2 separate regions of the Homo sapiens genome follow, and region 2 is linked to region 1. Evidence: fine-mapped expression QTL. Tissue or cell type: whole blood. Region 1 holds a variant in brackets; the other region holds the start of a gene. All regions are shown on one strand. Distances are from middle to middle.

Evidence for each region. PIP is the estimated chance that this variant, and not a neighbour inherited with it, causes the effect.
Region 2: it holds the start of TMEM38A, and the variant in region 1 is fine-mapped to the expression of TMEM38A in whole blood (TOPMed, PIP above 0.99).

What each region holds. Positions count from the first base shown.
Region 1 is chr19:16,684,287-16,692,463 of GRCh38, reverse strand. TMEM38A (transmembrane protein 38A) reads right to left here. Exons shown (of 6, transcript NM_024074.4): 5 at 6,059-6,176; 6 at 2,441-4,320. The coding sequence ends at 4,093. Among named protein-coding and RNA genes, the nearest start is that of TMEM38A, 27 kb to the right of the region's middle. The variant T/A (reference allele first, on the strand shown) is at 3,655.
Region 2 is chr19:16,657,622-16,665,798 of GRCh38, reverse strand. It overlaps TMEM38A (transmembrane protein 38A), which reads right to left and starts at 4,660. Exons shown (of 6, transcript NM_024074.4): 1 at 4,458-4,660. The coding sequence starts at 4,581. It overlaps SMIM7 (small integral membrane protein 7), which reads left to right and starts at 5,655. Exons shown (of 5, transcript NM_024104.4): 1 at 5,655-5,714; 2 at 5,799-5,840; 3 at 6,352-6,404. The coding sequence starts at 5,689. RefSeq lists an enhancer at 3,499-4,307 and silencers at 4,593-4,842, 4,863-5,062.

The DNA of each region.
Region 1 (8,177 bases):
CAACATGGTGAAACCCTGTCTCTACTAAAAATACAAAAAATTAGCTGGGCGTGGTGGCACATGCCTGTAATCCCAGAGGCTGAGGCAGGAGAATCGATCGAACCTGGGAGGCAGGGATTGCAGTGAGCTGAGATGGCGCCACTGCACTCCAGCCTGGGCAACAAGAGGGAAACTCCATCTCCAAAAGAAAAAAAAAAAAAGGCCTTATCTCCTGTCTTAGTCCATTTAGGGTGCTACAAGAAAATACTAGAAAATGGTGGCTTATAAACAACGGAAATTTATTTCTCACAGTTCTGGAGGCTGGGAAGTTCATGATCAAGATACTGGCAGATTCACTGTGTGGTAAGGGCCGGCTTCCTGGTTCATACGTGTCTTCTCTCTGTGTCCTCACATGGTAGGAAGAGCAAAGTGTTTCTTTGGGGCCTCTTCTGTAAGGGCACTAATCCCATTATGAGAGCCCCACCCTCATGACCTAATCATCTCCCAAGGGTCCCACCCCCTAATACCTTAGGGGTTAAGACTTCAACAAATGAATTTGAGAGGAACCCAATTCAATTCATAACAGGTATGCAGTGGCATATGCTTGTGGTTTTAATGTGCAATTTATATGATATCTGCCAACCATATAATTTCTTTGGTGGTGTCTATTCAAATCTTTTGCCCAGTTTTTTTTTGAGACAGGGTCTTGCTATGTTGCCCAGGTTGGACACCACCTAACGGGCTCAAGTGATCCTCCTGCCTTGGTCTCCAGAGTAGCTAGGACTACAGGTGTGAGTCACCATGCCCAGCTTCTTTTGCCCAATTTGGTGTGGAGTTTTTTTCTACTTTATTCTTATTTTATTTATTTATTTGAGACAGGGTCTCACTGTTCCGCCCAGGCTGAAGTGCAGTGGCCCAATCTTAGCTCACTGCAGCCTCAACCTCCTGGGCTGAAGTGATTTTCCCCACTCAACCTCCAGAGTGCCTGGGCCTACAGGCACGAGTCACCACCCCCGGCTAATTTTTAAATTTTTTTTTGTAGAGACAGAGTCTCACTATGTTGTGCAGGCTGATCACCAACTCCTGGGCTCCAGTGATCCTCCTGCCTCAGCCTCCCAAAGTGCTGGGATTACAGGCGTGAGCCACCAAGCTCGCACTTTTTTCCCTTATAATTGAAGGGTTCTTTTTTACAGCTTTATTGAGGCATCACTGACAAATGAGGTACTGTGTGTATTTGCAATGTACAATGTAATAGGTTCTGACATGTGTATAGACCCGAGAAACTAACACAATCAAAGAAGTTAACAGACTCATCACTCATGTCCCCTTGCCCCTTCAAAATCCCTCCTGCCCACCCCACCCTACCTGCCTTTCCCCAAGCACCCACTGATCAGCTTTCTGTAATTATACATTAGTTTGCTTTTTCTAGGATTTCATATAATGTATGTAATGTATACTGTACACAGTATACATTTTTTTTTTTTTTGAGATGGAGTCTCGCTCTGTCTGCCAGGCTGGAGTGCTGTGGCGCGATCTCCGCTCACTGCAAGCTCTGCCTCCCAGGTTCACGCCATTCTCCTGCCTCAGCCTCCCAAGTAGCTGGGACTACAGGCGCCCGCCACCACATCCAGCTGATTTTTTGTATTTTTAGTAGAGATGGGGTTTCACCATGTTAGCCAGGATGGTCTTGATCTACTGAACTCGTGATCCACCGACCTCGTGATCCACCTGCCTTGGCCTCCCAAAGTGCTGGGATTACAGGTGTGAGCCACCATGCCCAGCCTTTTTTTTTTTTTTTTTTTTTTAAAGAATGAGTTTTGCTCTTGTTGTCCAGGCTGGAGTGCAATGTCTCCACCTCAGCTCACCGCAACCTCCACCTCCCAGGTTCAAGCGATTCTCCTGCTTCAGCCTCCCGAGTAGCTGGGATTACAGGCACCTGCCACCACACCTGACTAATTTTTGTAGTTTTAGTAGAGGCAGGGTTTCACCATGTTGGCCAGGCTGGTCTTGAACTCCTGACCTCAGGTGATCTGCCCGCTTCAGCCCTCCAAAGTGCTGAGATTACAGGGATGAGCCACCATGCCCAGCCATCCCCACATCTTGAGGCCAAAATCCCAGGCATGTGGCTGGGCTCAGTGGCTCACACCTGTAATCCCAGCACTTTGGGAGGCCAAGGTGGGTGGATCATTTGAGGTCAGGAGTTCAAGACCAGCATGGCAACATGGTGAAACCCCGCTTTTACTAAAAATACAAAAATTAGCCAGGTGTGATGGCGGGCACCTATTATCCCAGCTACTCGGGAGGCTGAGGCAGGAGAATTGCTTGAACCCGGGAGGTGGAGGTTGCAGGGAGCCAAGATCGGGCCACTGCACTCCAGCCTGGGCAAGAGTGAGACTCGGTCTCAAACAAAAACAAAAACAAAAAACAAAATCCCAGGCATAAATCAGACAAGCCATGAGGGTTCATTCACAATGATTTATTGGCTGCCCCTCCACACCGAGCTGAGGTGGACAAGCAAGAGGATGAAACCTCCCCAGGACCCACCTAACTCCCAGGCATCACAGGAACAAGGCAATTTTCCAACAGCCTGGCAACGTCTGGGACTCCAACGAGGTCTGGGCCCAAACCTCACCTGAGACTGGCCACGCCCGTCCCATGCACCCACCCCTCTCAGACATCCTGGTGACCTAGGCTGAGATGAGGGTGACCAGGAGGGACCCTTCAGCTATAATATCATCCACCTCGCTCACACTGAAGCAGGCTCCTGGCCCGCCCAGCAGCAGCACAAGGCTGACCACAGAGCAGGTAAGCATCTGTATGTTTGTTCAATGGCTGAATGAGTGACAGTGGACTCCAGCCTGAGGGAGACCTGATACATCCAGGTCCCAACTGTGCACACTCAGAGCCCCTTGATAGAGCTGGATCGTGGAACCCCAACCAGCTGTTTCCATTTCTTTGGTTTAGGGGGAGCCTGAGACGAACAGATCACAAGCCTTTCACGCCATCTGATCTCTCAAGCCTGCCCTAGACGTGTCTACTGAGGGCTTCCTTTGTGCCAGGGAACTTGTGCGTTTCTCTGATCCACACACACGAATGATCTAAAATGCAAAGCCATTTGCAATCATAATTTCCAACTGTCCTGGTCTCCCCTCCTGACTGCACGAGGCTAGGAGCATGTGAGCCTTTTTTAACTGCAGCTTCGCATCGGCCCTTCCGTACAGAGGGGGGCCAAGGGTCTCCACTATACAGATGGGGAGCGCCAAGCTCAGAGGAGGAAGGCAACTTGTCCAGGGACGCCCAGCAAGAGTCGGGACTTTCTGGCCACGTGAAAATGTCTAGCCACTGAGGAGCGTGGTAAGAAGAGACTTTGAAATGGCAGCACCTGGCTCACAGGTACTTAGAAAATGTCCATCAAATGAATGGATCTCAACATGGCTTGAAGTTCTTCAGGAGTCAATATGCAATTTTTTTTTTTTTTTTTGAGACAGGGTCTTGCTGGAGACAGGTCTTATTGGCCAGGCTGGAGTGCAGTGGGAAGATCTCAGCTCACTGCAACCTCCACCTCCTGGATTCATGTGATTCTCCTGCCTCAGCCTCCCGAGTAGCTGGGATTAAAGGCGTGCACCACCACGTCTGGCTAATTTTTGTATTTTTGGTAGAGATGGGGTTTCACCA[T/A]GTTGGCCAAGCTGGTCTTGAACTCCTGACCTCAGGTGATCTGCCCGCCTCGGCCTCCCAAAGTGCTAGGATTATAGGCATGAGCCACTGTGCCTGGTCAAGATGCAATTTTAAAGAAGGAAAAATACAACTAAGAATATCATGCCAACCAGTGACATTCTTGACTGGAGCTGCTGCCAGGATTCTGTGAACCCCTCCAAAAGCTGTGACTCTATGGGGTCCTGGCAGAGAGAAAGAGGGAACCCCGATTTCTACAAAAGTTCTTCATCCTCATCCCCATATCTCAACCCCCACATCAGCCCTGGAGGGTGAGCCAATGACCCTGATTTGCAGATGGGGAAGTCAAGGCCAGGAAAGGATAGATCTGAGCGCAGGAAGCCTCCCAGCTCAGAGGGTCCTGGGTCCGGGTCCTCTCCCCGGTGCCCCTTGGGCCACCCCCTAATCCGCCTTCTTGGCCTTCTTCTTCCTGGAGCCCTCGCTCAACTCCTCCTTGGACTTGGCGGGCATGGCCGAATGCTGAGCTCCTGGCCCACCACCGCTGTGGGACCCACCATGGTTGTCGTGGTGATGGTCACCCCCGCAGGCCGAACCAAACAGCACGGGGCAGATGTAGCCCTCCAGGGCATCAAAGGGGGAGCTGTGTGAGTGGGTGGCTGTCAGAAACACCTGAGGTGGGGTGGCCAGGGAGACAGCAAGAGAGACAGAGGGAGACCAAGGTAGAAAGCAAAGGAGTGGAGGGCAGGGTGGGGAGAAGAGGGGAGAGAATGTCATCAAAGTCAAGGTTGGAGGTAGCCCAGACCCAGCCCTCTGGCTGCATGCACCCCCAGGATGATGGGCGACCATCTCAGGTTTCCCAGGATGCCAGATTTCAAGTGTTGACCCCTGGAAAGTTCCAAGCACACTGAGACTGCTGGTCACCCATCCCCCAGAATTCCCCACGACACCTGGGCTCAGAGAAAAGCTGTGCTAAGTGCAGGTCTGAAGGTCTGTGTCCTCCCAAATTCATATGTTGAAACCTATCACAAAGGTGATGGTATTAGGAGGTAAGGCCTTTGGAGGGGTAATTAGATCATAAGGGTGGAGCCCTCAGGAAAGACATTAGTGCCCTTATAAAGAGGCCCAGGAGAGCTAACCAGTCCCTTCCACCATGCGAGGACACAGTGAGATGCTGCCTATCTGCAACCAGTAAAGAGGGCCCTCACCAGAACCCGACCAGGCTAGTACCCTGATCTTGGACTTCCCAGCCTCCAGAACTGTAAGAAATACATTTCTTCCTTTTCCTTTTTTTGGAGACAGGGTCTCACTCTGTTGCCCAAACTGGAGTGCAATGGCATGATCTCAGGTCACTGCAGCCTCCACCTCCTGGGTTCAAGCAATTCTCATGCCTCAGCCATCCAAGTAGCTGGGATTACAGGCATGCGCCACCACGCCTGGTTAATTTTTGTATTTGTATTTTGTTTGCCTGTTTGTTTGTTTTTGAGACAGAGTCTCAATTTGTTGCCCAGGCTGGAGTGCGGTGGTGCGATCTTAGCTCACTGCAACCTCCACCTCCCGGGTTCAAGCGATTCTCCTGCCTCAGCCTCCCGAGTAGCTGGGATTACAGGCATGTGACCCCACGCCTGGCTAATTTTTGTATTTTTAGGAGAGATGGGGTTTCGCCATGTTGCCCAGGCTGGTCTTGAACTCCTGGCCTCAAGTGATCTGCCTGCCTTGGCCCCCTGAAGTGTTGGCATGAGCCCCCGTGCCTGCCCAGGAATAAATTTCTGTTGTTTCTAAGCCACCCAGTCTATGGTACTGCATTCTGTTATACAGCAGCCTGAATGGACTAAGACATTTGGCCTGGGGTAGAGCTACAAACATAGCAGGACAGGATCCCAGCCATCTGCTTGCCTCTCCCTTCTCGCCTAATGCAGGAAGACATGCTCACTCCCTTTTGACAGCCCTGGAGTCCTCACCCAGGGAAGACACAGCCCTGAGCTAAGATCTTCATGCAGAGGGAGAGAGCCCAGCCCCTGAAGACCCCTCCTGGGTGGGGTGATGTCAACTCAAGGCATGACTGTCAGACTAGAAGTATTCCTGGTCCAACTGAGTTCCTGGGTACCTGATGCTGCCATTTCAGCTTCTTGTCCCTCTGGTCTCTGTACCCAAGAGAGTGGGCCCACCTTGACCCTGGCTCAGGCTGGGTCCTTTACACAGAAGGCCTGTTCCTCTCATCTGTGTCCTGGCTGCTGGACACTGCCTTTTAAACTCTCTTCCCAGTGACCTACTGGCAAGCATCTCCCCTCTCTGGGCTGCCTGTCCCAGCCACATAAGGCTGGGAGTGTCCAATTTCCCCACTCCCAACCTGGAGGTGGCAGGGTGGCATTGGTCAAGGCAAGAATGCTGCAAGAAGAGAAAGGCTTACCTTACAGGACACCATGAACAAGGTGAAGATGAAGATGAGGCTGGCTTTGGACACTGGGAGCCAGCGGGTCTGCTGGAGGGTGAAGAGGATGGCTCCATACAGGCTGGCCTTGGTGGGGCTGGAGGGAGCAGCTGTCATTACCGGGAGGTGCCTGCATGGCTCAAGTCTTCATAACTCTGGCCCAGACACCCCCCTGCCCTGGCACCAGCTCCCATCCCAGCTTCTCTCTTTTCTTTTCCTTTTGAGATGGAATCTCACTCTGTTGCCCAGGCTGGAGTGCAGTGGCACAACCTCGGCTCACTGCAACCTCCACCTCCTTGTTTCAAGTGTTTCTCCCACCTCAGCCTCCCAAGTAGCTGGGATTACAGGCATATGCCACCATGCCTGGCTAATTTTTGTATTTTTAGGAGAGACAGTGTTTCACCATGTTGGCCAGGTTGGTCTCGAACTCCTGGCCTCAAGTGATCTGCTCGGCCTCCCAAAGTGCTGGGATTATAGGCATGAGCCACTGCGCCCAGCCACAGCTTCTCCTGATTGTAAGGTGGCAGGTTGAGATGGTGTCATCCTATGCATGATGGGTTAACCTGGTCCAAGGAAAGATCTGGCCTTTGTCCAGCTCCTGGAATATGCCCTCTAAGCCCTTGGAGTGTCCTGCCTTGATAAGACTGTCTTTGTTTGCCTGAGGACGGCCTTGGGCCACACCAGGTAGTAACAACGTAATTTATGGTGGGGGTCTTGGGCCATGCAGCATCAGGTGGACCTCTAGAGGGGCTGAAGACTGAGGTCAGCCACACAGGTGGTTAGCTAGTTCTGAGCCACAATAAAAATCCTGGATACCCAGGCTCAGAAGAGCTTCCCTGGTTGGCAGTACACCATGCATGTTGTCACACATTGCTGCTGGGAGAATGAAGCCCTGTCCACATGATTCCACTGGGAGAGGAAAACTGGATATTTTCACCTTTTCTTTCCTGTACTCTGCCTCATGCACATTTTGCCCCTGCTGATTTCTTGTTTGTGTATGAGTCAGAGTCTCATTCTGTCACCCAGGCTGGAATGCAGTGGCATGATCTCAGCTCCCTGCAACCTCCACCTCCTGGGTTCAAGTGATTTTCCTGCCTCAGCCTCCCGAGTAGCTGGGATTACAGATGCCCGCCACCACGCCAGCTGATTTTTGTATTTTTACTAGAGATGGGGTTTCGCCATGTCGGCCGGGCTGGTTTTGAACTCCTGACCTCAAATAATCCACCCGCCTCAGCCTCCCAAAGTGCTGGGATTACAGGCATGAGCTACCACGCCCAGCCAACCCCTGCTGATTTCGTTTTATTTATTTATTTATTTATTTATTTATTTATTTACAGAGACAGGGTCTCTCTCTATCACCCAGGCTGGAGTGCAGTGGTCTGATCATGGCTCACTGTAACTTCAAACTCTGAGGCTCAAGTGATTCTCCCACCTCAGCCCCCCAAGTAGCTAGGGCTAGAGTTATGTGCCACTGTGCCTGCTTAATTTTTAAGTTTTTTTTTTTTTTTTGTAGAGATGGAGTCTTGTTCTATTGCATAGGCTGGTCTTGAACTCCTGGCCTTGAGCAATCCTCCTATCTCGGCCTCCCACAGTGCTGGGATTACAGGTGTGAGCTGCCTCTGCTGATTTTATTCTATATCTTGTCACTGTAATAAATCATAACCCTGAATATAATGGCTTTGCTAAGTTCTCTGAGTCCTTCTAGCAAATCATGGAACATCAGGATGATCTTGGGGATCCCCCATCAGCTTATTTCCCCCAGAAAATGTGATTACAACATGCAGAGTTTTCCTTAACTTTTATTTTTTTCCTTGCAAAATAGGTTTAAGATATTTTTATTTGTTGCAAAAGACAGACCTGTGACTTCTATTCCTGATGTCTGTCTCTCATTGCTTTTTTTTTTTTGAGACAAGGTCTCGCTCTGTTGCCCAGGCTGGAGTACACTTGTGTGATCACAGCTCACTCCAGCTTCAACCTTCTGAGACCAAGCGATCTTCCTGCCTCAGCGTCCTGAGTAGCTGGGACTACAGGCACACACCACCACACCTGGCTAATTTTTTTTTTCTTTTTTTTTTTAGAGATGGGATGTTGTAATGTT
Region 2 (8,177 bases), 27 kb after region 1:
ACAGAAAAGTAAGCAAGCCTGACCCAGAAAATGCCAGTATCCCAAGTAATATATTCCTCCCTAGACTTCCAAATAAACATCACCACCCCTCACAAATGCCTTAGACCTTATCCCTGACAAAATTCTCAATAGATCTTTACAATCGCTAGGAAAGGGAGTCTGGGGTTCTCTTACCAATGATCCCATTTCACAGACAAATAAACTGAAGCTCATGGTGGTGAAATAACCATTGTGGTGTTTACTCAGTGCTAGTGGTAGAACTGACTCCCATGATTCAGAGACGTTTAGTTTCTTTTTTCTTTTTTTTTTGAGACAGGGTCTCACTCTGTTGCCCAGGCTGGAGTGCAGTGGCACGATCATGGCTCACTGCAGCCTCCACCTTGCAGGGTTCAGGTAATCCTCCGACCTCAGCTTCCCTAGTAGCTAGGACTACAGGCACATGCCACCACACCTGGCTAATATTTTTGTATTTTGCATTTTTTAATTTTTATTTATTTGTTTATTGAGACGGAGTTTCATTCTTGTTGCCCAGGCTGGAGTGGAATGGCACAATCTTGGCTCACCGCAACCTCTGCCTCCCAGGTTCAAGCGATTCTCCTGCCTCAGCCTCCCTAGTAGCTGGGATTACAGGCATGTGCCACCACGTCCGGCTAATTTTGTATTTTTAGTAGAGACAGGGTTTCTCCATGTAGGTCAGGCTGGTCTTGAACTCCCGACCTCAGGTGATCTGCCCACCTCAGCCTCCCAAAGTGCTCGGATTACAGGCATGAGACACCGCGCCTAGCCATTTTTGTATTTTTTATAGAGAAGGGGTTTCACAATGTTGCCCAGGCTGGCCATGAACTCCTGGCCTCAAGCAATCTTCCAACCTTGACCTCCCCAAATGCTGAGATTATCTGACCTATGCTGACATTCTTTTTTTATTATTATTATTATTTTTTTAGGAGACACGGTCTTGCTCTGTTGCCCAGGCTGGAGGGCGGTGGGGTGATCATAGCTCGCTGCAGCTCCCAGGCAACATTGATGCTGCTCTGTTGAGGACCACACTCTGAGCTTCATCCATTCTCAGGATTCTCAAGAAAGCCTGACCCAGCCAGGCGCAGTTGAGCTCCAACTCCTGGGCTCAAGTGATCCTCCAGCCTCAGCTTCCCAAGTAGCTGGGACCACAGACACACACCACCATGCCTGGCTATGAAATTCTTAATTTCTGAACAAAAGGCCCCACACTGATACTTTGTATCGGCCTGGCAAATTCTGTAGCTGGTCCAGCACACAAATTCTGAGAAGAAAATTTACAGATACCCAGCACGCACACCAAACTGGGACTAACAGTTCAATCCGACACCTCACTTTTCTTTTCTTTCTTTCTTTTTTCCAAGACAGAGTCTCAGCCAGGCTCTGTCACCCAGGCTGGAGTGCAGCAGCGAGATTTCGGCTCACTGCAACCTCCGTCTCCTGGATTCAAGCTATTCTCATGTCTCAGCCTCCCAAGTACCTGGGATTACAGGCGTGCGCCACCACACCTGGCTATTTTTTTGCATTTGTAGTGGAGACGGGGTTTTGTCATGTTGCCCAGGCTGGTTTCAAAGTCCTGGGCTCAAGTGATCCACCCGCCTCGCCTCCCAAAGTGCTGGGATTACAGGCATAAGCCATCACATCTGGCCTCCAACACCTTTCTTTTCTAAGGAAACCAATCTCACATCAATTGTACTGATTCTTAGAGTCAAGCAGACCTGGGCTGAGTCCCGAGGCTGCAACTGACCAGCCATGGGACCACAGGCTCATTGTGTATTTAAGATAGCTTAGCCACTATTTCCTGTTTCCCCAGTTATGAAAGGAGGAGGTTGAACTGGGTGGAGTATCCTCAGCCCTGATAACAGACATCAGTCACTGAGGGAGGGGAGATTAATATTCTGATTCAATTGGTGGGGGGTGGAGATAGGGGGTTTAAAAGCTCCTAGGAGGCCGGGCGCAGTGGCTCACACCTGTAATCCCAGCACTTTGGGAGGCCGAGGCAGGCGGATCACAAGGTCAGGAAATCGAGACCATCCTGGCTAATACGGTGAAACCCTGTCTCTACTAAAAATACAAAAAAAAAAAAAATTAGCCGGGCATGGTGGTGGGCGCCTGTAGTCCCAGCTACTTGGGAGGCTGAGGCAGGAGAATGGTGTGAACCCAGGAGGCGGAGCTTGCAGTGAGCAGAGGCGGCGCCACCGCACTCCAGCCTGGGCGACAGAGCGAGACTCCGTTTCAAAAAAAAAAAAGAAAAGAAAAAAAGCTCCCAGGAGCGTCTCATGAATTCATGAATAGCCAGGGTTTGGAACCACTTCTCAGCCTTCAGGAACCTTCAGGCTCTGGCACTTAGAGCCTGGATGGCTTATTCTAGGACTTCTGCAGAAATATCTTGAACCTTCCTGCAAGTTCCCAGGCAGCTTGGAGACCTCTTTTCTCAAGACATTTGTGTCCTACATTCCCACAGGGCTCCAACCCTCCTCAGTTTCAGATTTTTTTTTTTTTCGAGACAGAGTCTTGCTCTGTCGCCCAGGCTGGAGTGCAATGGCGTGATCTCGGCTCACTGCAACCTCCGCCTCCCAGGTTCAAGTGATTCTCCTGCCTCAGCCTCCCAAGCAGCTAGGATTACAAGCATGTGCCACCATGCCTGGCTAATTTTTTTATTTTCAGTAGAGACGGGGTTTCTCCATGTTGGCCAGGCTGGTCTCGAACTCCTGACCTCAGGCGATCTGCCCGTCTTGGCCTCCCAAAGTGCTGGGATTACAGGCGTGAGCCACTGTGCCCAGCCAGTTTCAGATTTTCTAAGGTTCTGCAACTGCCCAAGGAACTGGCCTGAACCACCAAGAATTCTTCCCCAGAAAGGAAAGATAGCCCCATGTTCATGCTAGGACAACACAAAAGCCTATTTTGTTTTGCAAAGTAATGTTCTCCAGGATAGCTTTTAAGAAAATAGGCTCTGGCATGTGGATAGGCAAAAATAGAATAAAAATTCCTAGCAAATAGAGTGTAATCCTGTTAGCATAAGAGCGTGCATTGGCTGGGTGCAGTGGCTCACGTCTGTAATCCCAGCACTTTGGGAGGCCTAGGTGGGTGGATCACAAGGTCAGGAGATCGAGACTATCCTGGCCAACATGGTGAAGGCTTGTCTCTACTAAAAATACAAAAATTAGCCAAGTGTAGTGGCGGGTGCCTGTAGTCCCAGCTACTCAGAAGGCTGAGGCAGGAGAATCGCTTGAACCTGGAAGGTGGAGGTTGCAGTGAGCCGAGATCACGCCACTGCACTCCAGCCTGGGCGACAGAGCGAAACTCCATCTAAAAAAAAAACCGCAAAAAAAAAAAAAAAAAAAAAAGCGTGCATTTACGTTTATAACTATATAGCCGTAAATGAATAGAAGAGACATCAAGAAAGGTGGCTGGCCACCAGTATGTTGACAGTAATTCTCTTTTTTTCCTTTGCCCTTTTCAGTTTGAGTTTTTAGTAAACAGGGGCGCTTATTTTTATCCTCTGAGAATAAAGCTATTTCCTTTCTGAGCTATAGTGGTAATTTACATCTAAGTGGGAGAAAGGCTTATGAAGTTTGGGGTTCCTTTATTTTTCTAAGCCTAAAATCTATTATCTAGTAAGTTGCTGGTGTTCTAGAATAACGGTGAACAAGAAACATTTAAACATTTGTTCACGGTGAACCTTTTATAAAAATAGAACACGTTCTAAGGAAGCCATTCATCCTCATTTTAAAAATTAAGAAGCAGGCTGTACCCTCCTGTGACCTCCCCAGCGTGGAGTCTGGAGCTGAGATGGAGGACACTGACCCCAAGTCACCCAGCCTTGGGGCCGGTTCTGCTCCGTAAGTGGAAAGGATCTGGAGCCAGGGCTGGAAGAATTCCCGTGGGGGCTCGGAGATTCAGCACCGTGGGGGAAGGGAGGGGAGTGGAGGGTGCTGGGCAGTTGCAGTGGGGAGGAGAACCGGTGTCACTTTCGCTGAACCTGACCGCAGCCCCCAGCGCAGTGGCCCTTATAGACACTCCGCTGGCGCTCTCAATCCGCGTGCCAAGGTCAAGGAGGGAGGTCACACCTGCGCGCGGCCAGAACAGATGCACCGACCCCCACCTGCACCCTCGCCACAGCCGGCGCCCCTTGCCCAAGTTCCTGCAGCTCTGACCCAACCAGGAGCCCCGACCCCAAGCACCTGTTCCCCCTCCTCTAAACCCGCGCACGCCTCTCCTTCCCCTCCCCCAGCTTCATCGTCCTGGGGGCTTCTCCCCCGGGCTCACCCCGGCGTGAGAGAACCCCACGATTCTAGCGCCTGCCTACTCCCACGATGCAATCCTTGAACCTGTCCCTCGCTCCCTCCACCACGCACGGGCTTCCCCTCTCTGCGACCCCCGAGCTGCCCCGGCCCGCGCCACCCGCTGCCGGTCCCCTCCAGCCCCCCGCCCCGGCTCACCTGGCTCATACTTGAGGTAGAGGATGGAGACGATGAAGTAACTGAGGTCGAAGACGGGGAAGAGCGGCACCCGCGAGAAGCTGAGCGCCAGTTCGCCCAGGCTCAGCGCCGAGAGCAGCTCCATGGCGCCCGCCTGCCCGCCTGCCGGGTGCCACCCGGGGCCCCGGCCTCGTCCGTCCCGCCGCCCGCGGCCCGGCGACTGCGCCCCCGCAGCTGGGCCCGCCCCCGCCCGCCAGGCGCCACCCCAGGCCCGGCCCCCGCGGGAGAGGAGGGGCGACGGCCCACCCCGGGACAGGTGGTGGGGACGCCCAGCACCACGGACGCAGCTGGACGGTCGGGCGTCCCAGGCGTTGACCCTCCTGCCATCGCTACCCCGTTCCGCCCAGCGAGGCGGGGTGCGGGGCACCCGTGCAAGGCGAGGGAGGCTGGGGAGCTGCCTGTTCTGGGGGCCCGTCCCTCACGGAGCCCACCCACGCGGGACGCCCGTTCCCAGGGGGCCGGATCGGCCAGGACTTTGTCCCCGTGGGCTCAATTAGGACCCCGATCTTCGGTGGAGCCCAGTGAGGACCCCTACGCCATGGTGGGACCCCATGAATCAGAACCCCTGTTCCCCGTGGAGATAGGTTAGGACCTCGGTCCTCTGTGGAGCCCCGTCAAGACTTTTCTGCCCCATAGGGTCCGTTCGATCAGGAACCCCGTCTCCGGTGGGGCTCTGCAAATCAGGACGTCTTGTGGGGGGCAGCTCAGTGGGAACCCCCGTTCCCCATGGGGCCCAGGAGGATCTCATTTTAGAGCCCAGTTGGTTGGGGCACCCGTTTCTAGGGACCCCACTGCGTCAGGACCCCGCACCCTGTGCAGCTCAGGAGTCAAAGGATTCCTTTTGTCCAGAAGCCCAATTTGGGACCCCAGAAAGTGAGTAGGAATTGCTGCCCAGCTAACCCTACGGCATCGAGACCTCACGCATGCGCGGCACGCTTCGAACGCGTGACCCAATCCCGCCCCCAGGAGACCCCGCTCCTCCCATTCTGGCTCTCGGGGCCTCCCCAGCGAGGTGGGGCGCTCGCGCTCCCCTAAGGGGGTCTGGCCTGCAGAGGGCGGGACCCTCCCAGCCTTGACCTTCGATTGGCCCAGCCCTCGCCACTGTTGCTTTAGGATTGGTCGGCTTGTGCTCCTCTCCCCTCCCTCCCTGGGGCTTCCGCTTCCGGTTCTGACGGACGCTTCGGCCGTAACGATGATCGGAGACATCCTGCTGTTCGGGTAATTAGGGGGACCAGAGGCTGGGAAGAGAGAGCCAGGCAGGACGCGGGGGCGCCCCTAGTAACTGTAATTCTCCCTCTGCAGGACGTTGCTGATGAATGCCGGGGCGGTGCTGAACTTTAAGCTGTGAGTAGGTCGCGGCCGGACTGCGGCTCCATCCGGGGAACCCGTAGCCCCGCCCTCATAAGCGTGATCTCGGCGCACTTCTCAGGCCCCGCCCCCAAGCCGCAGGCCCCGCCCTATCCGCCCTCTGGGCACGCCTCCAGCCTGGTTTATCTTCCTCGCCCCCCACCCCCCGAGAGACCTTAAACCCATACTCTCCGTTCCTTGGTTGTCCCTCTGTTCACCTTCCTGGAGAGCTTAAGCCCCATCCCCCAAGAAATAGCCCCACCGCGGACCTTCCGCCCTGCACCCGCACTGTCGGGCCACTTTGTAAACGGTCGGTGGCTGCTGACCTGGCTGTGATTGTCCGGGCAGTGGGGGCCCAGAGAAGGGTATTGAACGTCAGAGGTCACACAGCAAGTTTGCGGCAGGGCCAGGGCTGAAACTTAGTGTTTGTGGCCTTCTGAGCTGGGGGTCAGGGGGCTGAGGACTCTATGTCCCATTGAAAGTGGACACTGTCTGCTCCTCTTTGTAGGAAAAAGAAGGACACGCAGGGCTTTGGGGAGGAGTCCAGGGAGCCCAGCACAGGTAAGGTCTAATTGGATCCTGGAATTGCATGGTCCACTTCAGAGGACAGTTCTGTTTCGCCAAGCCCTACCTTCGTTTTCTTTCTTTCTCTTTTTTTTTTTTTTTTTTTTTTGACACAAGGTCTTGCTCTGTTGTCCAGGTTGGAGTGCAGTGGTGCGATCATGGCTCACTGCAGACTCGACCTCCTGAGCTAAAGTGATCCTTCCACCTCAGCCCCCTTAGTAGCTGGGATTACAGGTGTGTGCCACCATGCCAGGCTAAATTTTGTATTTTTTGTAGAGATGGGGTTTCTCCACGTTGCCCAGGCCGGTCTCGAACTCCTGGGTTCAAGTGATCCCTGCCTTGGCCTCCCGAAGAGCTGGGATTACAGGCGTGAGCCACAAGTTTTCTCTTTAATTGAGCGTGTGTGTGAGTGGGAGATGACTGAGAATGTGCTAGCCTTTCTGCCTACCTCTGTCATCTATTTCTTTCTCCTACCAGACCTCCCTGATGTGAGCACTCACATCACTTCCTACCGTTATAATGTTCTGTTATGTTTGCTGTCATCTGGCTAATGTCTGCCCCTCACATATGACTGTAAACTTCAGAGAAGAGGCCCTAGCTTGGCTTGTCCCATCCTTTGTTCTTGCCGTACCCGTCCTCCGATGCCTGTGAATGAATGAATGAACAACCTCACACATAGCTGTTGCTTTCAGAGTGCTGCAGACCTGCCACTTTTAAAATTAGATGCCAACATTAGATTTTTAATCAGGAGATTTTATATAAAAATTAAGATGTCTGATTTTTCTTGAAAAATTGGAACATTCTGCAACTCAAGATTCAGGAGAGCTGTTTGCATCTATTGAGTGTAGTTGAGAAGGACTCTGAGGAGGTGGGGCCTGTAGACTCTGCCTCATCCCAGCCCTAACCCCTTCATATGTCTATCATCTGCCTGGGCCCTGGAGGCCCCAGAATTTACACTTCCTGCTGAATTTGATTGTGTAACTATTTGGAGTCTTAAGGGGATCTGTACATGACTATTGTATCCATTCATTAATTCTTTCATTCACCAGATATTTGAGTACCTAACGCATGCTGGCTACTGTGCTAGGTGCTGGGGTACAGCAGGGGTAAGACAGATAGAGTGGAACTTACCATGGGGTGGGACACATGGTTTCTAAGCAGGGAATAGATAGTGACAGAGGTGACGTTAGGTGACAGAGGCAGGGAGTCACAGGATGGTGATGGGGTTGCCCTCCTGCTGGGGTGTGGAAGGGAAGGCCATTTGAGGAGGCGGCGTCACAGTCAAGGCGGTGGATGCCATGATGGAGCACTGCCCAAGGATGGGGGAACCCTGAGGAACAGAGGTTTTCTTCTTTTAGAGACAGGGTCTTGCTCTGTTGCCCAGGCTGGAGTGCAGCGGCACAGTCATAGCTCACTGCAGCCTTGAGCTCCTGGGTTCAAGAGATCCTCTTGCCTCAGGCTCCCAAGTAGCTGGGACTACAGGCACTTACTACCACGCCTGGCTAATTTTCTAAATGTTTTTTGTAGAGATAGGTATCTCGCTGTGTTAACCAGGCTGGTGTCCAACTCTTGGTCTCAAACGATCCTCCCACCTCAGCCTCCCAAAGTGCTGGGATCACAGGCATGAGCTACCACGCCTGGCCGAGCTGAGATTTTGAAGACACTCCAGCAGCTCCCCTTTTTGGGGGCCTGCCCTTGGGTGCTGACCCAGTTAGGTGCTTCCTGTTAGTGTTGCATTCTCCCTCCATTCTTAAAAGATAATGGTCACTT